Linked DNA regions of Homo sapiens: regions 2 and 3 are each linked to region 1. The links come from fine-mapping of genetic effects on gene expression. A gene starts in region 1. Each other region holds a variant in brackets. All regions are shown on one strand. Distances are between the middles of the regions.

Region 1 (8,175 bases):
GTGTGGTGGCTCGTGCCTGTAATCCCAGCGCTTTGGGAGGCCAAGGCGGGCGGATCATGAGGTCAGGAGTTTGAGACCAGCCTGGCCAACACAGTGAAACCCCACCTGTAGTAAAAATACAAACATTTGCTGGGCGTGGTCGTGGGTGCCTGTAATCCCAGCTACTTGTGAAGCTGAGGCAGGAGAATTGCTTGAACCCGGGAGGCAGAGGTTGCAGTGAGCCGAGATCTCACCACTGCACTCCAGCCCAGGCAACACTGGGAGACTCCATCTCAAAACAAAACAAAACAGAACAAAAGTTAGCTGGGCATGGTGGCACACACCTGTGGTCCCAGCTCCTCAGGAGTCTGAGGTGAGAGGATGGCTTGAGCCCAGGAAGTTGAGGCTGCAGTGAGCCGAGATTGCACGACTGCACTCCAGCTTGGATGAGGCAGCCAGACCCTGTCTCAAATAATAATAATAATAAAATAGAACAATTATAACAGATTGTAATAAAACTCATGAATGTGGTCTCTTTCTCAAAATATCTTATAGCACTGTAATCACCCTTCTTTTCCTTGTGATGTAAAATGACAGTGCCTATGTGCTGAGATGAGGTGAGGTGGATGACATAGGCATTATGACCTGGCGTTAGGCTACTATTGACCTGAGAATCCATCAAACTTATGAATTGTTTATTTCTGGAATTTTCCATTTAATATTTTTGGGCCATGGTTTACCTCAGGTAACTGAAACCACACAAAGTAAAATTGCAGAAAAGGAGGGACTACTATAATAAGAAGAGAAGGAAGGAGACAGGAAGGGCATAAGGCAGACAGGAAGTGGAGGGGAAAGATAGGAAGTGCAGGAAGGAGACAGGAAGTGGAGGGGAAAGACAGGAAGTGCATGAGGGAGACAGGAAGTGGATGGGGAAAGACAGAAAGTACATGAGGGAGACAGGAAGTGCTGGGGAAAGACAGGAAGTGCATGAGGGGGACAGGAAGTGCATGAGGGAGACAGGAAGTGCATGGGGAAAATTGGCAGGGATTATCTTGAAAAGACAGGAAGTGCTCCAGAACTAGATACTTAGGCATCCAGGGTAGAGTGGCCCCACAGGCTGGAGGGAAGACAGGGATTCTTGAGAGACTGGAGACCAAGAAGAGACCCTAACCTCTGACTCATCGCCATCCTCCAGGAAAACCGGGAGGTGGGAGACTGGCGCAAGAACATCGATGCACTGAGTGGAATGGAGGGCCGCAAGAAAAAGTTTGAGAGCTGAGCCTTCCTGCCTACTGCCCCTGCCCTGAGGAGGGCCCTGAGGAATAAAGCTTCTCTCTGAGCTGAAAGTGACTCCATGTCTATTACCCAGGGCTTAGGCAGGAGACAGATGGGAAGACTGCAGGTGGGGCTCCCCCAAAGCCACACAGCAGGTTGGGGACCAGATGGGTCTCCCATGTGAAGCACTCTTGGCTGTGTTATTGAAAAGAATCCCGGGGTTCATGAATTTGGAGAGCGGAGCTTTGTTTCTTAAGAAGCGGATCACAACCTGAAGACCAGAAGCATGGCTTCTTGCCAAAAAACAAAAGCAGGCACTTTAAGGGAGGGAAGGGCAAGGCAGGAATTTATGCTGAGTGGGTTAGCTAAGTGCACGTATTCAACTGGTTATAGAAGGAGCTATGAATATTCATGGACAGGTGGACACATGGACACACGCATGTGTGACAAGCAAACACTCATTTTTTTTTTTTTTTGAGACGGAGTCTTGCTCTGTCACCCAGGCTGGAGTGCAGTGGCACGATCTCAGCTCACTGCAACCTCTGCGTCCTGGGTTCAAGCCATTCTCCTGCCTCAGCCTCTCCAGTAGCTGGGATTACAGGCATGCACCACCACGCCCAGCTAATTTTTGTGTTTTTCGTAGAGACGGGGTTTCACCATGTTGGCCAGGCTGGTCTCGATTTCCTGACCTCGTGATCCGCCCTCCTTGGCCTCCCAAAGTGCTGGGATTACAGGCGTGAGCCACCGCGACTGGCCGCAAACACATTTTACATGCATCCCACCTTCACTTGGTGGTGGAGGCTTAACATTTAAGTGCATTCCATTGAATGCATTCGTATCGAAACACGAAGCAGGGATATGAAGACACTCAGTGCACAGCCTCTGTCAACAGCCAGAACCAGTCCGTGGTCTGCGGCATCTTATCAGGAGAAAGTTACTGAAATCAGTCTCTTGTTCAACTAATGCTGTAGTTATGCCTTGTGGAACAGGGGGTTCAGCTAGTCAGCATCTGGCAATGGATGGCTGCAATGGTTGTAATATTGCTTATCTTGAGGCCGGTGCTTGTTTAGCTGCTAGAAAAAGGAAAAGCCTTGTGGCAGTTGGAACATAGTCGATTATATAAGTGTAGGGATGCGTGGCTTAACCCTTGCCTGGCATGGCCTTAGGTCTTGTTTATAATTTGGTATCTTATTGCCACAAACAGTTCATTCCATCAGTCTTCTGATCTCTATTGTCACAGCTCCTCTGGCCCATGTGGAGTGCACAGAGATGCCAAGACTAAAGGTCAAAGAGAGAGAGACACAGAGAAACAGACAGGCAGAGAGACATGACCGACAACAGAGAGACTGAGTTGGGAGTAGAGAGAGTAGGAGCCAGGCAAAGACCCAAAGAGAGAGGGAGAAAATACCACAAGATGCATAGAAGGAAGTGCAAAGAAAGGAGAAAAGAGAGACAGAGATATACTCACAGCAAGGTGCAGAGACATGGAGACCCTATAAGAGATGGAAATGGAGAGCCACAGAGGGGGAACTGCGGGCACTAAGAGAGACATGGAGAGAACTAGAAAGATAGAGACGTGAACACAGACACAGAGACCCAGAGCCAAAAAGAGACAGAAATGGGGTCATAGGTGGACAGAAATGCACAGAGAGACTGTGAGCCCCCACAGACACAAACGCTGAGAGGGGCAGACATGCAGAGACACCCACAGAAATGCAGAGACAAAACCACCCGGAGACACATGCCGAGAAACACACTGAGGGGCTCAGAAAGCGACAGATGCAGAGAGAGCCCAAGACAGACCCAGCAAGGGGCCCCGAGAAATGCACAGAAACACAAAGACCGAGACCACCAGAGACAGAGGTACGGAGAGGCGGGGAGGGTGAGGAAGCCTGCTCTCCAGGGCTGGCTTGAACCTAGAACTCAAGGTCATGGCTTGGCTGGGAAGCGGGAGGGGGATACCAAAAAAGATCAGCGTTAGATGGAGGTGGGGAGGGAGGGTAGGTTTCACCCTAATTGACACCCCACCCTCCCCCTCCCCCTCCCCACACCTGCTTCCCGGCTTTAGTGCCTGTTGTCACCAGGATGGAATCCTGGCGGCAGACAAAGGGGTGGGGGTGGGAGGAGGAGACAAAAAGATGGACAGAGACAGAGGAGGAGACTAAGAAGTAGAGACAGACACACAGAGACACACAGATGGAGAGCCACAGAGACAACAGAAATGGGGGTCCAGAAAGAGACCTAGATAGAAAGAGGGAACAGAGAGAAGAAAACAGGAAACATTCCTTATAGCCCATGTGTCATTAGTAGGTCCTCCAAGGACCTACTGTGTGCCGGGCATGGGGACGTCAAAGCACAGGGAGCTATAAGGGAGGTAGTTGGAGCACCACGGGAGCCTGGGGTGTGGGGTGGGAGCAGGGGCGGGGCTCCTGGGCCATGCAGATGGGGTTGGCATGGGGTTGGGGAGGGGCCCACGGAGGCTTCTGGACTCTGAGTGTGGAGCCAGGGGCAGCAGGGCTGTCTCTGAACTCCCAGGCTTGTGTTTGAGCAAAGGAATTCTCTCCCCCTCCCTCTCCCCTCGGGGCGGGCCCGAGCCTCCAGCTATAAACTCCCCGGAGCTTCAGTGCCCTCAGCAAGGCTCAGCCTCAAGATTCACAGCATCTCAGACACAGCCTAGGTAAGGGGCTCTGCGGAGCCCTGTGGTCTTCAAAAACCATGTCCTTGGGGGAGGGGGCAGGAGGCAGGTGGGGAAGATGTCGGGTGTGGAGAAATGGTGCAGAGGTAGGTGGGGCATACAACTGGAGGTCTGGGAACTTGAGAGGCTCAGACTTTAGGGGGACTCAGGATAGAGGGGAAAATACTAGGATTTGTGGGTTACACAAATCCTAACCCGGGGCTGCCAGGACTTGGATGTCCCAGAATAAAACCTCCTAGGATCTTGGGGTTCTGGGAATCTGGGGGAAATCTCAGCAGTCAGGGATATCTGGACTTGGAGGTCAAACAATCTGGGTGTCAGGATTTGGGGCCTCAGACTCTGAGGGTATCAGGAATTGGGGGGGTCTCAGAAGAAATTGGGGTTTTGGTAGTGGAGGGCTCGGAATCTGAGACATTATGATAGAAAGCATGAAAACTTAGAGTGCCATTATCTGGGGTATCATGAACTGGGCCTCCGAGTTTGGGTATCAAGATTTTGGGGGTCTCATATTCTTGAGGTTTCAGATTTTAGGAGGTCTCAAGACCTGGGGGTGGTCTTAGGATGTCCCGGCCCATATCTGGACTATCAAGAACTGGGATTTCAGAATCCAGAGCTGTGAGGACTTGCTGGCCTCAGAAACACGGGCATCATAAATCGGGGTCTCAGAATCTGTGGGTATTGGGATTTGGGGCTAGGCACCCTGTGGCCTAGGGTGTCTCAAAGACTTTGAGGTCTAAGAATGTAGGGGTCAGGGTGAGGTCTACGGACAGAAGGTGCCCTTTATGCCCCTGCCCCCTACGTGATGTATGGGAAGGTGAAAGGGGAGACAGGTGGGGAGGAAACCAGCCAGTGGGGTGGGGCGAGTGGGAGAGGGGATGCGGGTGACTAATTCTCCCAGAAGCCCCCCTTCCTCAAATCCCTTCTTAGGAAATGTCCTCGGTTTCACCATCTATGACATCCCCCCAAAATAGCTCCTGGGGGTGGGGCAGCTATTGTCTTCAGGCCACTGTCCCTTCTCAAATGCCTCTTCCTAATCCCAACTGGATCAGGTTCCCATGGACTTGTCATAAGACAAAAGAGGACAGCTGTGCTGAGGGGGCAGGGTCTGCAGCCTCCTGGCTGTGCCAGGACCACACCTACCAAGGTCTGTCCTCATGCATGCTTTAGGACAGCCGGCCCCCTCCCTCAGACCCAAGAGTCCAGACCTGAGCCCTCCTCCCTCAGACGCAGGAGTACAGGCCCCCAGCCCGCTCCTCCCTCAGACTCAGGAGTCTAGACTCCCAGCCTCTCCTCCCTTAGATCCAGGAGTCCAGGCCCCAGCTCCTCCTCCCTCAGACCCAGGAGGCCAGGCCCCCAGACCCTCCTCCCTCAGACCCAGGCGTCCAGGCCCGCGGCCCCTCCTCCCTCAGACCCAGGCGTCCAGGCCCCTGGCCCCTCCTCCCTCAGATCCAGGAGTCCAGACCCCAGCCCCTCCTCCCTCAGACCCAGGTGTCCAGGACAACCCATCTCAGTCTCAGGAGTCCACACCCACCCTCCCACACACCCCCCAGCCCCTCCTCCCTCAGACCCAGGAATCCGGCCCCCAGCCCCTCCTCCCTCAGATCCAGGAGTTCAGGACCCCAGTCCCTCCTCCCTCAGACCCAGAAGTCCAGGCCCCAGCCCCTCCTTCCTCAGACCCAGGAGTCCAGGCCCCAGCTCCTCCTCCCTCAGACCCAGGAGTCCAGACCCCAGCCCCTCCTCCCTCAGACCCAGGAGTCCAGGCCCCCAGCCCCTCCTTCCTCAGACCCAGGAGTCCAGGCCCCAGCTCCTCCTCTCTCACACCCAGGAGTCCAGACCCCAGCTCCTCCTCTCTCACACCCAGGAGTCCAGACCCAGGAGTCCAGGCCCCCAGCCCCTCCTCCCTCACACCCAGGAGTCTAGGTCGCCCCCTCCTTGGGGCCCCACCCCACTGGGCCTCTTCTCTCTGGTCCTTAGGCCGCACCAGGATGTCGGACACCGAGGAGCAGGAATATGAGGAGTGAGTGCTGCACTGGGAGGGGTTGGGGCGTGCAGTGGTGGAGAGGCTCTCCCACCCCAGGTCTAACTCTCCCCTCCCTCCTCTCTCCCCACACCCGTCCGCAGGGAGCAGCCGGAAGGTGAGTAGGGAGTGGGCCGGCCCTATGGGATGGGGACACGCCCAGGAGCTCTTGGGAGGGGAGGCGAGGAGTGTGGCACTTTGGCGGGGAAGGGGCGGCTCAGCCCTCGGGCCCTCGCCCGCCCTCTCCGGGTCTGGAGCGTCTCCTCGCGCCATCCCTGCACCGCCAGGGGGAACGTGCCCATCGCAGCCGAGGCCAGAGGGACCCCCGTCCAGCAGAGACTGGAACCCTGGTCTCTGGCCACCGCCCCCATCCCTCCCCCAGCTCCTAACGCCTTCTCTTCTGTGCCCCCATCTCCAGAGGAGGCTGCGGAGGAGGAGGAGGAAGGTGAGGTCCCGGACTCCGCAGGTCTGGAGCTGGGGGGTGGGGGGGCGGGGACGCTGGGCCCGGGAGGAGGGGGCGGGATGGGGCTCCCGACGGCCTCGGCTCCCGGTCCTCTAACAGCCTCTCACGTCTCTTCCCTCTCTCCCCTCCCGCGCCCGGGCGTGGCCGCTCCCCCCTCGCTCCCCAAACCCTCGCTGCTCCTCCCTCCCCTCCCCAGCCCCCGAAGAGCCGGAGCCGGTGGCAGAGCCAGGTAACCGCGGCTGCTTCGCTTCCCGAGACCGATGTCGGGGGCCCGGGGGGACCCCCGATATCCTCGGGCCCCAACCTCCAAGACCACCCTTCCCTCCCTCCGCCCCCATAACCCGCCCCCAGGCCCGGTCCTTTAAGCCCCTGAGAGCTCCTGCGCCCTCTCGGGGCCGGGAAGGGAAATGGCCCCGCAGTGGCTTTAACCCTTTCCCTTCCTTCTTAAAGGGACCGACACCCAAGCCTTCTTCCCCAGTCTGGAGGAATCTTTACAGAAGGGTTGGATGTTTGCGGAGAAGCACCACCCCATCCCCCCTTATCTTCGCCTCCAACCTTGTCTGTTATTTTCTCCCCCATATACATTCAAAGGTTGGGGCTTGGAATTTAGGATTGCAGAGGAGGCGAGCGCTGGGAGTCAGGGTCTCCAAGGTCGGGCCGGGGGCGGGGGGGCGGTGGGGCGGTGGGCAGGGGGCGAGCTGGGGAGAGAGCGCTGGGGTCACTGAATGAAGACAGAGGTTGGGACCCCCTGCACTGCTGGGTCCTAATGGAGGAGAGCAGGAGCTCTGGGCATATAAATAGAGAAAGGTCTGGGGGTTTGCACTCCTGGGTGTGCAGACAGTGGGGGTGGGGGGTCCCCACACCAGTTCTGAATGTATATCTGATGCGTGTGACCCTCTTCCTCCTTTACAGCCACCCTGACTTTCCTTCCCTCTTTTCTTCTCCCCATCCCCCCTCCTCCAGAACTGGACTCCAGAGTCCTTCCCTGGGGTCCTGGGGGCCGAGGCTTGGGGGGTCCCTCCCCAGGGTGTGTCAGGCCTAGCCCCTCTCCTCTAAACTCTTGCTAATTATCTCTTTTTATCCCCCACCACCAACAGAAGAGGAACGCCCCAAACCAAGGTGAGATCCTACAGGGTGGGGGGCCCCAGTCATACATCTTCCTAAATATTCCCTCTACCCCCAGAGACAAGGTGTGAGAAAGGCAGAGATGGAGGGAGGAAATTGAAACAGCAGTCGACATTTCTCCTCCTCCTCCTCCTCCCTCCCCCTTTCCCTCCTCCCTCCTCTCCCTCCTCCTCCCTCCTCCTCCTCCACTTCCTCTTCTTCCCCTTCCCCTTCTCCTTCTCCTTCCCCTTCTTCTTCATCGTGGTCATAGTCTCCACCCTGTTACCCAGGCTAGAGTGCAGTGACCCAATCCTGGCCCACTGCCTCAACATCTTGGGCTCAAGCAATCCTCCCATCTCAGCCTCCTGAGTAGCTGGGACCACAGGCATGTGCCACCACACCTGGTTTTTTTTTTTTTTTTTCTTTTTGTAGAGATGAGGTCTTGCTATGTTGCTTAGGCTGGTCTTGAACTCCTATCCTCAAGCAGTTCTCCCACCTTGGCCTCCCAAAGTGCTGGGATTACAGGCGCAAGCCACCATGCCCAGCCAGTCTGTTTCCTTCTTTCCACCCAGTGGTCCCTCTTCCCCTCGCGCCTTTACCATCACCCCAGCCTCCTCTCTGGCCTCCCTGCCTACAACTTGT
Region 2 (8,175 bases), 56 kb before region 1:
TCCAGACCCCAGCCCCTCCTCCCTCAGACCCGGGAGTCCAGGCCCCCAGCCCTTCCTCCCTCAAACCAAGAGTCCAGGCCCCCAACCCCTCCTCCCTCAGACTCAGGAGTCCAGACCCCCAGCCCCTCTTCCCTCAGACTCAGGGGTCCAGACCCCCAGTCCCTCCTCCTTCAGGCCCAGGAGTCCAGACCCCCAGCCCCTCCTCCCTCAGACCCAGGAGTCCAGACCCCAGCCCCTCCTCCCTCAGACTCAGGAGTCCAGGCCCCCAGCCCCTCCTCCCTCAGACCCAGGAGTCCAGACCCCAGCCCCTCCTCCCTCAGACCCGGGAGTCCAGGCCCCCAGCCCTTCCTCCCTCAAACCAAGAGTCCAGGCCCCCAACCCCTCCTCCCTCAGACTCAGGAGTCCAGACCCCCAGCCCCTCTTCCCTCAGACTCAGGGGTCCAGACCCCCAGTCCCTCCTCCTTCAGGCCCAGGAGTCCAGACCCCCAGCCCCTCCTCCCTCAGACCCAGGAGTCCAGACCCCAGCCCCTCCTCCCTCAGACTCAGGAGTCCAGGCCCCCAACCTCTCCTCCCTCAAACCAGAGGTCGAGACCCCCAGCCCCTCCTCCCTCAGACCCAGGAGTCCAGACCCCCAGCCCCTCCTCCCTCAGACCCAGGAATCCAGACCCCCAGCCCCTCCTCCCTCAGACCCAGGAGTCCAGACCCCAGCCCCTCCTCCCTCAGACTCAGGAGTCCAGGCCCCCAACCTCTCCTCCCTCAAACCAGAGGTCGAGACCCCCAGCCCCTCCTCCCTCAGACCCAGGCCCCCAGGCCCCCAGGCCCTCCTCCCTCAGACCCAGGAGTCCAGACCCCAGCCCCTCCTCCCTCAGACTCAGGAGTCCAGGCCCCCAACCTCTCCTCCCTCAAACCAGAGGTCGAGACCCCCAGCCCCTCCTCCCTCAGACCCAGGAGTCCAGACCCCCAGCCCCTCCTCCCTCAGACCCAGGAATCCAGACCCCCAGCCCCTACTCCCTCAGACCCAGGAGTCCAGACCCCAGCCCCTCCTCCCTCAGACTCAGGAGTCCAGGCCCCCAACCTCTCCTCCCTCAAACCAGAGGTCGAGACCCCCAGCCCCTCCTCCCTCAGACCCAGGAATCCAGACCCCCAGCCCCTCCTCCCTCAGACTCAGGAGTCCAGGCCCCCAACCTCTCCTCCCTCAAACCAGAGGTCGAGACCCCCAGCCCCTCCTCCCTCAGACCCAGGAGTCCAGACCCCAGCCCCTCCTCCCTCAGACTCAGGAGTCCAGGCCCCCAACCTCTCCTCCCTCAAACCAGAGGTCGAGACCCCCAGCCCCTCCTCCCTCAGACCCAGGCCCCCAGGCCCCCAGGCCCTCCACCCTCAGGCCAAGGTTCCTGATCCCCAACCTTGGTTTTTTTCTCCCTTCCCAGTCTGTTCATTGCTCTCTGCCCTCGGTTTTCCAAGGACATATATTTCAGGAAATGAAATCATTAATTTTATCTCTCAGCCTTATCGGGTGGAGCCAACCCCAGCTCCCTAAGCTCTGCTCCTGCCATGCTCCCCCTTCTCTCCTCGACCCAGGAAAGACGGTCGAGGTCGTGACAGCCCAGCCTAACACCGGCCCCTCCTTCCCATGCAAGGGTGACTCATGGGGCGGGGACCAGCCGCTCCTCCCAGCCCCTCGGCCTCACTGGGCGGAGGAGTGGTTGAGAGGCTGACTCCGTTTTCTCTGGGTTCCCTCCAGGGCCTGTGCAGCTGGACAGGGGCCAGGGCGCCTGGTGAGTGACCCCTGCCTGAACTCACTGCCCACTCGAAGAGGTGGGACCGCAACTGCCGTGAGCCTCTGGGGGGTCCCCGTGGGGTCCAGTGGTCCATGGTAGGGGTTTATGAGCGCCGTTGTTTCTGGACTTGGGGCGTGAGCTCAGGGGTTGGGAGGGATTGTACTGACCTGGTTCCCTTTTTGTCAGACCTTCCTTCCCAATTCTCAGCCCCCAACCCAGGGAGGAACCTGACAGTGGAGACTCAGACCACCAGCTCCATCTCCCTGAGCTGGGAGGTCCCCGATGGCCTAGACTCACAGAACTCCAACTACTGGGTTCAGTGTACTGGAGACGGCGGCACAACAGAGACTCGAAACACAACAGCCACCAACGTCACCGTGGATGGCCTTGGACCCGGGTCATTGTATACGTGTTCTGTGTGGGTGGAGAAAGACGGAGTAAATAGCTCTGTGGGGACTGTCACTACTGCCACAGGTAAGAGGCAGCCACTGCTTTATTTTTATTTCTTTTATAAGGACAGTGGTAGGGGGTGGTTGAGAGCTGACAAAATGCGACAGGTTCTTTAGTTGGATAGAAACACAGTGGAAGCCACACGTGAGAATTTCAATTTTCTATCAGCCACATAAAAATAAGTAAAAAGAAACTGGTCAGCCTGTCTCTACAAAAAAATTAAAAAGTAGCTGTGGTGGCGTGTTCCCGTGGTCCCATCTACTCGGGAGGCTGAGGTGAGAGGATCGCTTGAGCCCGGGAGGCAGAGGTTGCAGTGAGCTCTGATTGGACCGCTGCACTCCAGCCTGGGCAACAGAGAGAAACCCTGTCTCAAAAAAAAAAAAAGAAAAGAAAACAAAAGAAAACAAAAGAAAAGAAAAACAAACTAAATTACTATGAGAGATTTTATGTAGTCCATCAGATACAATTTTTTTTTTTTTTGAGGCAGAGTCTTGCTCTGTCGCCCAGGTTGGAGTGCAGTGGCATGATCTTGGTTCACTGCAACCTTTGCCTCCTGGGTTCAAGTGATTCTCCTGCCTCAGCCTCCCGAGTAGCAGAGACTACAGGCATGTGCCACCATGCCCAACTAACTTTTGTATTTTTAGTAGAGACTGGGTTTCGCCATGTTGGCCAGGCTGGTCTCGAACTCCTGACCTCAGGTGATCCGCCTGCCTCGGCCTCCCAAAGTGCGGGGATTACAGGTGTGAGCCACTGCACCTGGCAGATACAAGGTATTTTCATTTTGACTTGTAATCAATATAAAAACGATCATTCAATATATACACCAAGTATATACTCACACACACACAAATATATATAAAGGATCAATGAGACAGTTGACATTCTTAATTTCATACGAACTCTTCGAAAGCCGGTGTGGATCTTCCACTAACGGCTCATCTCATTTCACAAAAGCCACCTCAC[G/A]GTGCTCAACACTCACGTGGAACTCGTGGCTGCCACACTGGACAGTGCAGAGCTGGGCCTCCCTGCCTCTACCTGCTGGATGCAACGGTTAAGGAAGGGCTGGAAAGTTTGAGGGCCAGAAACTACAACTGATTTTCCCTCCTGTGCTGGTTTTCAGCTCCCAACCCAGTGAGGAACCTGAGAGTGGAGGCTCAGACCAACAGCTCCATCGCCCTGACCTGGGAGGTCCCCGACGGCCCAGACCCACAGAACTCCACCTACGGGGTTGAGTACACTGGAGATGGTGGCAGAGCAGGGACTCGAAGCACAGCACACACTAACATCACCGTGGATGGACTTGAACCCGGGTGTTTGTATGCGTTTTCCATGTGGGTGGGAAAGAATGGAATCAACAGCTCCCGGGAGACTCGAAATGCCACCACAGGTGAGAGGCAGTCGCCATTTGTTTTGCTCTTACTTGTTTAAGGGGCAGTAGGCAGGAGAACGTAGCGGATTTCTATTCCATAGTCCCTCTGGGCCACATTGAGCCAGGTACTCATGTCCACATCCTGGGGCAGTCTCAGCTCAGGAGATGAAGAAGGAATGAATGTCCATGGTACCTCCAGCTGCTAAGCTGGGGCCGGTCTGTGTCTAGGACTCTCTAGAATGTACCTTCCTGCACCAAGAGGAATGTGTAGGGGCCAAGGCATGTTACCTGAGCTTTCAAGGAATTAGATACTGTGAGTGGGGACACTCTGACCCTCTGACTCTTCTTCTAGTCCCCAGCTGCGTCACATATTGAGGATGGAAACTCAGATCATCAGCTCCATGATCCTGATGTGGAGAGCTCCCTCTGGCTAGATCTCCATTGTCCGATATGGTAGCCACCAGCCACACATGGCTATTAAATTTAAGCTCGTTAAAGTTGCATGAAACTGCAAATTCAGTTTCACATTTCATATGTTTGAAAGCCCTGTTGAAGGGCTTCCATTTCCTTCTCTGTTCTCCTACCATACTGGAAGGTGGGAGAGCATTTCCATCGTTGCAGAAGCTCAGTTGGAAAGCGCTGGCTCAGGTCTTTGTTACTCAAAGTGTGGTCCATGTGTGGGCAGCATCCGGGTCTCTGAGAGCTGATGGAAATACATTGGCAAGTGACACTGGTGGGGGAGAAAAAGGGTGGGGGGGAGTGCAGTCTCTCAGCTCCATCCTAGCCCTGCTGAGTGAGAACCTGCATTTCACAAGGTCCCCTGTGAGATGTGCACACAGCAAAGAATGAGAAGCCCTGGTCTAGACCATAAACTCTGCATCTACTGGCACCAGCTGTTGAGGGACAACTAGGAACTCTGATGATCAAAAATGCCCACTTGGCCAGGCATGTTGCCTCACGCCTGTAGTCCCAGCACTTTGGGAGGCCGAGGTGGGAGGATCACCTGAGGTCAGGAGTTCGAGACCAGCCTGGCCAGCATGGTGAAAAAATATAAAAATAAGCCGGGTGTGGTGGTGCAGACCTGTAGTCCCACCTACTCGGGAGGCTGAGGCAGGAGAATCGCTTGAACCCGGACGGCGGAGGCTGTGGTGAGCCGAGATCGTGCCACTGCACTCCAGCCTGGATGACAGACAGAGACTCTGTCTCGAAAAAACAAACAAACAAAAAGCTCACTGGCTGCCCCCGTTATGTTCTGTAGTCCTGCTCATATTAGATCTTTCTTCCTAATTTCTCAGCTCACAACCCAGTGAGGAACCTGAGAGTGGAGGCTCAGACCACCAGCTCCATCTCCCTGAGCTGGGAGGTCCCCGATGGCACAGACCCACAGAACTCGACCTACTGCGTTCAGTGCACTGGAGATGGTGGCAGAACAGAGACTCGAAACACAACAGACACCAGAGTCACCGTGGATGGCCTTGGACCCGGGTCATTGTATACGTGTTCTGTGTGGGTGGAGAAAGACGGAGTAAATAGCTCTGTGGAGATTGTCACTAGTGCCACAGGTAAGAGGCAGCCGCTGTTTTATTTTTATTTCTTTTATAAGGACAGTGGTAGGGGGTGGTTGGGAGCTGACAAAATGTGACAGGTTCTTTAGTCCAATAGAAACACAGTGGAAGCCACAGGTGAGAATTTCAATTTTCTATCAGCCACATAAAAATAAGTACAAAGAAACTGGTCAGCCTGTCTCTACAAAAAAAATAAAAAAGTAGCTGTGGTGGCGTGTTCCCGTGGTCCCACCTACTCGGGAGGCTGAGGTGAGAGGATCGCTTGAGCCCGGGAGGCAGAGGTTGCAGTGAGCTCTGATTGGACTGCTGCACTCCAGCCTGGGCAACAGAGAGAAACCCTGTCTCAAAAAAGAAAGAAGGAAGGAAGGAAGGAAGGAAGGAAAGAAAGAAACTAAATTACTATGAGATATTTTATGTAGCCCATCAGATACAATTTTTTTTTTTTTTTTTTTGAGACAGAGTCTCCCTCTGTCGCCCAGGCTGGAGTGCAGTGGCGCAATCTTGGCTCACTGCAAGCTCTGCCTCCCGGGTTCAGGCCATCCTCCTGCCTCAGCCTCCCGAGTAGCTGGGACTACAGGCGCACACCGCCACACCTGGCTAATTTTTTGTATTTTTAGTAGAGACGGGTTTCACCGTGTTAGCCAGGATGGTCTCGATCTCCTGACCTTGTGATCCACCCGCCTTGGCCTCCCAAAGTGCTGGGATTACAGGCGTGAGCCACCGTGCCCAGCCCTTTTTTTTTTTTGGGACAGAGTCTCTGTCTCCCAGGCTGAAATGTAGTGGCATGATCTTGACTCACTGCAACCTCCACCTCCTGGGTTCAAGTATTCTCCTGCCTCAGCCTCCTGAGTAGCTGGGACTACAGGCATATGCCACCATACCTGGCTAACTTTTGTATTTTTAGTAGAGACGGGGTTTCGCCATGTTGGCCAGGCTGGTCTTGAGCTCCTGACCTCAGGTGATCCGCCTACCTCAGCCTCCCAAAGTGCTGGGATTACAGGTGTGAGCCACTGCGCCTGGCAGATACAAAATATTATCATTTTGACATGTAATCAATATAAGGAAAGGATCATTAAATATACACACTGAGTATATACCCACAAAATATATATATATATGTGTATGTATATATATGTGTGTGTATATATATGTGTATGTGTATATATATGTGTGTGTGTGTGTGTGTATAGGATCAATCAGATAGTTGACATTCTTAATTCTTAATTTCATACGAACTCTTCGAAAGCCGGTGTGGATCTTACACTAACGGCTCATCTCATTTCACAAAAGCCACCTCACGGTGCTCAACACTCACGTGGAACTCGTGGCTGCCACACTGGACAGTGCAGAACTGGGCCTCCCTGCCTCCACCTGCTGGATGCAATGGTTAAGGAAGGGCTGGAAAGTTTGAGGGCCAGAAACTACAACTGATTTTCCCTCCTGTGCTGGTTTTCAGCTCCCAACCCAGTGAGAAACCTGACAGTGGAGGCTCAGACCAACAGCTCCATCGCCCTGACCTGGGAGGTCCCCGATGGCCCAGACCCACAGAACTCCACCTACGGGGTTGAGTACACTGGAGATGGTGGCAGAGCAGGGACTCGAAGCACAGCACACACCAACATCACCGTGGATAGACTTGAACCCGGGTGTTTGTATGTGTTTTCCGTGTGGGTGGGGAAGAATGGAATCAACAGCTCCCGGGAGACTCGAAATGCCACCACAGGTGAGAGGCAGTCGCCATTTGTTTGATCTCTTATTTGTTTAAGGGACAGTAAGCAGTAGAATGTAGACGATTGTCTATTCCATAGTCCCTCTGGGCCATATTGAGCCAGGTACTCATGTCCACATCCTGGGGCAGTCTCAGCTCAGGAGATGAAGAAGGAATGAATGTCCATGGTACCTCCAGCTGCTAAGTTGGGGCCAGTCTGTGTCTAGGACTCTCTAGAATGTGGACCATAATGCCAAGGGGCACCTTCCTGCACCAAGAGGAATGTGTAGGGGCCAAGGCATGTTACCTGAGCTTTCAAGGAATTAGATACTGTGAGTGGGGACACTCTGACCCTCTGACTCTTCTTCTAGTTCCCAACTGTGTCACATATTGAGGATGGAAACTCAGATCATCAGCTCCATGACCCTGATGTGGACAGCTCCCTGTGTCTACACCTCCATTGTCCAATATGGTAGCCACTAGCCACACGTGGCTATTAAATTTAAACTCATTAAAGTTGCATGAAACTGCAAATTCAGTTTCACATTTCATGTGCTCAAAAGGCCTGTTGAGGGGCTCCCAGTCCCCCCTTCATCCTCCACGGTGCTAATGCCTACCATATTGGAAAGTGAGAGACTGTCTTCATCACCACACAAAGCTCCCTTGAGTCTCTCTTATTTTTTTCTTTTTTTTAGAGCTGGAGTCTCGCTTTGTCATCCAGGCTGGAGTGCAGTGGCAGGATCGTAGCTCGCTGCAGCCTCAAATTCCTGGGCTGAAGCAATCCGCCGACCTCAGCCTCCCAAGTAGCAGGGACTACAGGCGTGGGCCACCATGCCTGACTAATTTATTTTTTTTAGAGATGAGGTCTTGCTGTGTGGTCCAGGCTGGTCTCTAACTCCTGGCCTCAAGCAATCTCCCTACCTCAGCCCCACAAATTGCTGAGATTACAGGCATGTAATCTCACATGAAATGTGAAACTGTGCTGGGCCATTGGGCCTCTCTTAGGCAGTAACCCCAGGCATAAAGGCTTCACCTTTATGACCTAATCTTGCAAGGGCCCTACCTCTTAATGCTATTCCATTGGAGATTTTTATTTTGTTTTTTTTGTTTGTTTTTTTTGTTTGTTTTGAGACGGAGTCTCGCTGTGTCGCCCAGGCTGGAGTGCAGTGGCGCGATCTCGGCTCACTGCAAGCTCCGCCTCCCGGGTTCACGCCATTCTCCTGCCTCAGCCTCCCGAGTAGCTGGGACTACAGGCACCAGCCACCACGCCCGGCTAATTTTTTGTATTTTTAGTAGAGACAGGTT
Region 3 (8,175 bases), 22 kb after region 1:
GTATTCCACGGGACTTTAGGAGGTGACTAGGTCATGAAGGCAGAGCCCTCACAAATGGGGTTAATGTCCTTATAAAAGAGGCTTGAGGGAGAGCCCCTTGCCCCTTTGGCTGTGTGAGGACACAGCAAGAAGGCACCATCTGTGAAGCAGAGAGCAGGCCCTCCCTCCACACTGAGTCTTCTGGCGCCCTGATCCTGGTCTTTCCAGCCTACAGACCTGTGAGCAATACATTTGTATTGTTTGTAAATGACCAGGTCTACGGTGTTCTGTTACAGCAGCCCAAATGGACCAACACAACAGTTGATTTTCTTTTTCTTTCTTTCTTTTTTTGTTTTAATTTCTTTTTCTTTTTCTTTTTTTTTTTTTTTGAGATGGAGTCTCGCTCTGTCACCAGGTTGGAGTGCAGTGGCGCAATCTCAGCTCACTGCAAGCTCCCACTCCCTGGTTCAAGCGATTCTCCTGCCTCAGCCTCCCAAGTACCTGGGATTACAGGCCCGTGCCAACACACCCAGCTAATTTTTTTTTTTTTTTGTATTTTTAGTAGAGACGGGGTTTCACCATGTTGGCCAGGATGGTCTTGATCTCCTGATATCGTGATCCTCCCACCTCATCCTCCCAAAGTGCTGGGATTACAGGCGTGAGCCACCGTGCCCGGCCTTCTTCTTTTTTTGAGACAGGGTCTCCCTCTGTCACCCAGGCTAGAGTGCAGTGGTGCAATCACAGCTCACTGCGGCCTCAACCTCCTGGGCTCAAGCAGTCTTCCCGCTTCAGCCTTTCAAAATGCTGGGATTGCAGGTGTGAGCCACTTTGCCTGGCTGACAATAGTTGATTTCTTTCACATGTAAAAGTCTGAGTTGGGATGATGGCTCTGTTTTGTAACATTGCCTGGGTCCAAGCTCATCCTACTGTGTAGCTCCTTTCCCCAGGGGGTTGCCTTTGCCCATAGGGTAAGATAGTTCCCACTCTGTTTCAGACCGCAGACTGGGGTAAAATGGAAGGAGACATGTTTACTCCTACTCAGTCTCATTGACAGAAGTTAATTACATTATCATACCCAGTTGGTAGGGATGCTGGTGTCCCGTGCGTCTGTGGGAAGAGACCACCAAACAGGCTTTGTGTGAGCAACAAGGCTGTTTATTTCACCTGGGTGCAGGTGGGCTGAGTCTGAAAAGGGAGTCAGCAAAGGATGGTGGGATTATCATTAGTTCTTACAGGTTTGAGATGGGCGTACAAAGTACATTCAAGGGCGGGGAGAATATTACAAAGTACCTTCTTAAGGGTGGGGCAGAATATATGGTATCAGTTAGTGGGGCAGGAACAAATCACAGTGGTGGAATGTCATCAGTTAAGGCTATTTTCACTTCTTTTGTGGATCTTCGGTTGCTTCAGGCCATCTGGATGTGTACGTGCAGGTCACAGGGGATATGATGGCTTAGCTTAGGCTCAGAGGCCTGATATTCCTGTCTTATATTAATAAGAAAAACAAAACAAAATAGTGGTGAAGTGTTCGGGCGGTGAAAATTTTTGGGGGTGGTATGGAGAGATAACGGACGATGTTTCTCAGGGCTGCTTCGAGTGGGATTGGGGCAGCGTGGGAACCTAGAGTGGGAGAGATTAAACTGAAGAAAGATTTTGGGGTAAGGGGTGATACTGGGGGTTGTTAGAAGGAGCATTTGTCCTTCTAGAATTACTGGTGATGGCCTGGATGCGGTTTTGTATAAATTGAGAAACTAAACAGAAGACACAAGGTCCAAATAAGAGAAGGAGAAAAGCAGGTATTAAAGGACTAAGAATTCGGAGGACCCAGGACATCCAATTAGAGAGTGTCCAAGGGGGTTCAGCATAATTACTTGCTTGGCTGGTGAGTTTTGGGGCTCTATCTTTGAGTTTTTTTGTGTTGTCATATACCAGGCCAGATTGATTTAGGTAAAAACAACACTCTTCATTTAAAAATATACAGAGTCCTTTTTTTTTTTAGCAGTGAGTAAGTCGAGGCCTTGGCAATTTTGGAGGAAAGAGAAATGCAAAGCCAGTAATTGTTTGTTAAAGGAGGATTAGAAATGGCTGGGAGAGAGTGAGATTGATAGTGTGGTGGAGATAGCTGGGGAGAGGTAGAGGATGGCATAAGAATGGGAACCAAGGCCGGGCGTGGTGGCTCACCCCTGTAATCCCAGCACTTTGGGAGGCTGAGGCGGGCGGATCACGAGGTCAGGAGATTGAGACCATCCTGGCTAACACAGTGAAACCCCATCTCTACTAAAAATACAAAAAATTAGCTGGGTGTGGTGGCGGGCGCCTGTGGTCCCAGCTGCTCCGGAGGCTGAGGCAGGAGAATGGTGTGAACCCAGGAGTCGGAGCTTGCAGTGAGCCGAGATCGCGCCACTGCACTCCAGCCTGGGCAACAGAGCAAGACTCTGTCTCAAAAAAAAAAAAAGAATGGGAACCAGAATAACAGTGAGCATAGAAGTAAAGAATAGGACTTCATCAGGGTGAAAGTATTGGAGGGTACCTTGCCACTGAAGATCTATCCACTTCAAGAGAGACTTAAGGCGATTTGAGGTAAAACCAGGAGCCACTAAATACCGAGAGCCTGAGAGACTGCTTGGGTGATTTGACTAATAAAGGCTGGTCCGTTATCAGACTGTATAGAGGTGGGAAGGCCAAACCGTGGAATTATGTCTGACAGAAGGGAAGAAATGACTGTGGTGACCTTCTCAGACCCTGTGGGAAAGGCCTCTACCCATCCAGTGAAAGTGTCTACCCAGACCAAGAGGTATTTTAGTTTCCTGACTCAGGGCATGTGAGTGAAGTCAATTTGCCAGTCCTGGGCGGGGGCAAATCCCCGAGCCTGATGTGTAGGGAAGGGAGGGGACCTGAGCAATCCCTGAGGGGTAGTAGAATAGCAGATGGAACACTGAGAAGTGGTTTCCTTGAGGATAGATGTCCACGAAGGAAAGGAAATGAGAGGTTCTAAGAGATGGGCTAGCGGCTTGTAACCTACATGGAAGAGGCTATGAAGTGACGACAGAATAGAATGGGCCTGTGAGGCTGGAAGGAGATATTTTCCTTGGTCTAAAAACTATTTGCCTTGTGTGGGAAGAGATTGATAGGTGGCAGTTTCAGTGGGGGAGTAGGTGGGAGTGACCGATGTGAAGGAGAAAAACTGGCCGTGAGGGGCAGAAGTTGGAAAGCTAGCTGCTTCTTTAGCTACCTTATCAGCATAAGCGTTGTCCTGAGCAATGGGATCTGATGCCTTTTGATGGCCCTTGCAGTGAATGACTCCAGCTTCCTTTGGAAGAGAAGTGGCCTTGAGAAGAGTTTTTATTAAGGAGGCATTAAAGATGGAGGACACCTGCGTAGTGAGGAAACCTCCTTCAGCCTATATAACTGCATGGTGGGGCAGAATATGAAAGGCATATTTAGAGTCAGTATAAATATTGACGCGTAGTCCTTTTGCAAGAGTGAGGGCCTGAGTTAAGGCAATGAGTTCAGCTTGCTGAGAGGTAGTGGAGGGAGGCAAAGCAGTATCCTCAATGATAGATGTGGAAGATACTATAGCATAGCCTGCCTTTGCTGGTGTGTGGCGATTAGGCCTGGTGGAACTGCCATCAATAAACCAAGTGTGATCAGGCTGAGGAACAGGAAAGAAGGAAATATGGGGAAATGGGGTGAATGTCAGGTGGATCAGAGAGATAGTCATGAGGGTCAGGTGTGGTATCCAGAATAATGTGGGAGGCCGGATTGAAGTCCGGGCCAGGAACAATGGTGATTGTGGGAGACTCAACAAAGAGTGAGTACAGCTGAAGGAGCCGGGGAGCAGAAAGTATATGCATCAGGTATGAGGAAGAAAATAGATTTTGAAAGTTATGAGAACTGTAGAGAGTGAGTTGAGCATA[G/C]TTTGTGATTTTGAGGGCCTCTAAAAGTATTAAAGCAGCGGCAGCCACCACACACAGGCATGAGGGCTAGGCTAAAACAGTAAGGTCAAGTTGTTTGGACAGAAAGGCTATAGGGCGCGGTCCTGGCTCTTGTGTAAGAATTCTGAGAGCACAGCCCTGTACTTCAGCTGCGTGTGATGAAAAGGGTTGGGATGAGTTAGGGACAGCTAGTGTGGGAGCAGCTTTTAGGGCTGTTTTTTTTTGTTTTTTTGTTTCGTTTTGTTTTTTTTTGAGACAGAGTCTCTCACTCTGTTGCCCAGGCTGGAGTGCAGTGGCGCGATCTCGGCTCACTGCAAGCTCCGCTTCCCAGGTTCATGTCATTCTCCTGCCTTAGCCTCCTGAGTAGCTGGGACTACAGGCACCCGCCACCACCCCCGGCTAATTTTTTGTATTTTTAGTAGAGATGGGGTTTCACCATGTTAGCCAGGATGGTCTCGATCTCCTGACCTTGTGATCCACCTGCCTCGGCCTCCCAAAGTGCTGGGATTACAGGTGTGAACCACTGTGCCCGGCCAGGGCTGTTTTTTAAGGAATGGAAAGGGGAGTGGGGAAAGGATTTAGGATTTATGGGGTCAGCTAGGTTTATCTAGAACAGAATAATGGGTTGTGGAGGGAGGTATTGAGGATAGGAGAGTATACGGGTTTGGCACCATGGGGTGGATAGGCAAGACAATGTGGTTGATAAGGCACAGATCCTGAACTAACCTGTAAGACTTGTCTGGTTTTGGATGGGTAGGATAGGGGAGTTGTAAGGAGAATTTGTAGGCTTCAAGAGACCATGTTGTAACAGGTGGGTGATAACAGGCTTTAACCTTTTTTTTTTTTTTTTTTTTTTGAGATGGAGTCTTGCTCTGTCGCCCAGGCTGGAGTGCAGTGGCACGATCTTGGCTCACTGCAAGCTCTGCCTCCCAGGTTCACGCCATTCTCCTGCCTCAGCCTCCCGAGTAGCTGGGGCTACAGGCGCCCGCCACCAAACCCGGTTGATTTTTTGTATTTTCAGTAGAGACGGGGTTTCACCATGTTAGCCAGGATGGTCTCGATCTCCTGACCTCGTGATCTGCCCGCCTCGGCCTCCCAAAGTGCTGGGATTACAGGCGTGAGCCACCTCGCCCGGCCTAACCTTTTTAAAGCGTGCTGTGGGATGGGATATTGGTGTTGAGTGGGGTAAGGGTGATTAGGTTTTAATGGGATGGTAAGGGGTGCATGATCGGTCACCAAGGAGGGAGTAGAGGTATCCCATACTTGCGGATTAAGGTGGGGAGATACAAGGGGAGGATGTGAAGGAGGCTTTGAACTGGGGAAAAGGGTGGCAATGAGGTGTGGCTGTAGCCCAGGAATGATCAGGGAAGCAGATAATTTGGTTATAATGTCTTGACCTAATAAGGGAACTGGGCAGGTGGGGATAACTAAAAAGAAGTGCATAAAAGAGTGTTGTCCAAGTTGGCACCAGAGTTGGGGGGTTTTAAGAGGTTTAGAAGCCTGGCCGTCAATACCCACAACAGTTATGGAGGCAAGGGAAACAGGCCCTTGAAAAGAAGGTAATGTGGAGTGGGTAGCCTCCGTATTGATTAAGAAGGGGACAGACTTGCCCTCCACTGTAAGAGTTGCCCAGAGCATCTGTGATGGTCCAGGAGGCTTCCGAGGTGATGGGGCAGTGTCAGTCTTCAGCCGCTAAGCCAAGAAGATCTGGGAAGGAGTCAGTCAGAGGGCCTTGGGCCGGAGTTCCAGGGGCTTTGGGAGTGGCTGCCGGACAAGTTGGACAGTCCAATTTCCAGTGGGGTCCTGCACAGATGGGACACAGCTTAGGAGGAATCCCGGGCTGCAGGCATTCCTTGGCCCAGTGGCCAGATTTCTGGCACTTGAAGCAAGATCCTGATGGAGGAGGTCCTGTAGGAATGCTAGACCACTGCGGCGTAGGCATTTTGAAGTTCTTGTGTGCTGGAGATGTGGCTGGGGTTTCTCTCACAATGGAGGCAAGGAATTGCAACTCAGAAATATGTTGCTATGCAGCTGCCTCTACTCTATTAATGTACACCTTGAAGGCGAGGTTAATTAAGTCCTGTTGTGGGGGTTTTGGAGCTTTATTTAATGTCAGGAGCAGATTGGGTAATAAAATGCATATTGAGAATAAGAGGCCTTCTGACCCTTCAGGGTCTAGGGCTGTAAAGGGCCTCAGGGGTGCTGCCAAACGAGCCATGAACTGGGCGGGGTTTTTATATTTGATGAAAAAGAGCCTAAACACTAACTGATCTGGGAGAGGTCGGATAAAGGAAAAGGAGCATTAACCTTGACTATGCCTTTGGCTCCAGCCACCTCTTTCAGAGGAAATTGCTGGGCAGGTGGGGGAGGGCTAGCTGCAGAAGAAAACTGTAAGCTGGATCGGGTGTGGGGAGAGGAGGTGATGGAAGGATTATAGGGCGGGGGAGAGGAGGCTGAGGAAGAATTGGAGCCTGATTCAGCCTGGTGGGGAGCGACCTGAGGAGGAGCAGCCTGGGGAAGAGGGGAGAGGTCAGATGGGTCGGTAGAAAAGGAAGATTGAAAAGACTCAGTGACGCTTGGGGTTGAGACTGAGGGGACAGGCAGGAGGGAAAGAAGGAGGATTTGGGACAAGTCGCATTAGGAACAGAGACTAGGGAGGGACCAATGTGTAAAAGAATGCCTGGATATCAGGTACCTCAGACCTTTGGCCCATTTTACGACAAGAATTATCTAGATCTTGTAGGATGGAAAAATCAAAATTGCCGTTTTCTGGCTATTTAGAACCATTGTCGAGTTTGTATTGGGGTTAAGCAGCATTGCAGAAGAAAATAAGGTGTTTAGGTTTTAGGTCAGGTGTGAGTTGAAGAGGTTTTAAGTTCTTGAGAACACAGGCTAAGGGAGAAGGAGGGTCGGACGGTGGAAGGTTGCCTATAGTGAAGGAGGCAAGCCCAGAGAAAAGAGAGAGTAGAGACATGGAGAGAAGGGGTGGGGGGTGCTTGCCCCCCAGGAAAGTGGTGCTTGCCACTAAGGGTGAAGGATCAAGGCAAGCGTCCCCGTGGTGATCAGACACCTCTGAAACGTGGGTGAATAATCAAGCAGGCGTCCCCGCAGTGATTAAACACCAAGGGAAGACTGTCTTCCCGAGTCCGTGACCAGCGCTGGGGTTTTGGGTTCACGTATAAAACACGTCTCCTCTGTCTCTACCAGAAAAGGAAAGGAACTGAAATTAAGAGAAGGGAGAGACTGAAGGGTGGCGCCAAGATTCAAAGGAGAAAGAGGTTGAGGGATAGTGAGAGAGGTTGTAGAAGAGAGTAAAAAGAGACTGCTTACCCAATTTAAAATTGGTGAAATATTCCTTGGACTGGTTGGTCTGAGGACCCGAGGTCATAGGTGGATCCTTCTCACGGTGCAAAGAGCAGGAGGACAGGGGATTTATCTCCCAAGGGAGGTCCCCTGATCCTAGTCACGGCACCAAATGTCACGCACGTCCGTGTGAAGAGACCACCAAACAGGCTTTGTGTGAGCAAAAAGGCTATTTATTTCACCTGGGTGCAGGTGGGCTGAGTCCGAAAACAGAGTCAGCAAAGGTGGGATTATCATTAGTTCTTATAGGTTTGGGATGGGCGTACAAAGTACATTCTCAAGGGCAGGGAGAATATTACAAAGTACCTTCTTAAAGGCGGGGGAGAATATTACAAAGTACCTTCTTAAGGACCAGGCAGAATATATCGTATCAGTTAGGGTGGGGCGGGAACAAATCACAATGGTAGAATGTCATCAGGTAAGACTATTTTCGCTTCTTTTTTGGATCTTCAGTTGCTTCAGGCCATCTTCATGTATATGTGCAGGCCCACAGGGGATATGATGGCTTAGCTTGGGCTCGGAGGCCCGACACTGGGATATGTAACCATTATTCTAGATGGCTATGCTAAACCCAGCATAATCAGAGGTTCCATTTTGTTGAGAAAGAAGGGGACAACGAATATTGGGCAACAATTTGTCATCTCTGCCACTGAAACCACTGCTTCTCTGTCCACTACATTTTATCAAAGGCAGAGTGTCTTGCAATCAGCTTGACTTGCAAGAGGCTCAAAGGCCTCTTGGAATGCCTTGCATCAGTTTGCTTTTGTGGCATAAAAAGTTACCCCAGGTGGGCGCAGTGGCTCACCCCTGCCTGTAATCCCAGCACTTTGGGAGGCTGAGGCGGGTGGATCACTTGAGGCCAGGAGTTCAAGACCAGCCTGGTCAGCATAGTGAAACC

The links. PIP is the estimated chance that this variant, and not a neighbour inherited with it, causes the effect.
Region 2: its variant is fine-mapped to the expression of TNNT1 in whole blood (INTERVAL, PIP above 0.99).
Region 3: its variant is fine-mapped to the expression of TNNT1 in lung (TOPMed, PIP above 0.99).

The regions. Positions count from the first base shown.
Region 1 is chr19:55,144,917-55,153,091 of GRCh38, reverse strand. TNNT1 (troponin T1, slow skeletal type) reads left to right here and starts at 3,886. Exons shown (of 14, transcript NM_003283.6): 1 at 3,886-3,931; 2 at 5,924-5,966; 3 at 6,071-6,084; 4 at 6,385-6,411; 5 at 6,626-6,658; 6 at 7,527-7,548. The coding sequence starts at 5,935. It overlaps TNNI3 (troponin I3, cardiac type), which reads left to right. Exons shown (of 8, transcript NM_000363.5): 8 at 1,175-1,325. The coding sequence ends at 1,258.
Region 2 is chr19:55,200,766-55,208,940 of GRCh38, reverse strand. PTPRH (protein tyrosine phosphatase receptor type H) reads left to right here. Exons shown (of 20, transcript NM_002842.5): 2 at 1,742-1,775; 3 at 1,986-2,252; 4 at 3,349-3,615; 5 at 4,893-5,159; 6 at 6,619-6,885. Among named protein-coding and RNA genes, the nearest start is that of PTPRH, 4.6 kb to the left of the region's middle. The variant G/A (reference allele first, on the strand shown) is at 3,192.
Region 3 is chr19:55,122,438-55,130,612 of GRCh38, reverse strand. MIR7975 (microRNA 7975) reads left to right here and starts at 7,321; the gene lies at 7,321-7,388. The variant G/C (reference allele first, on the strand shown) is at 3,897.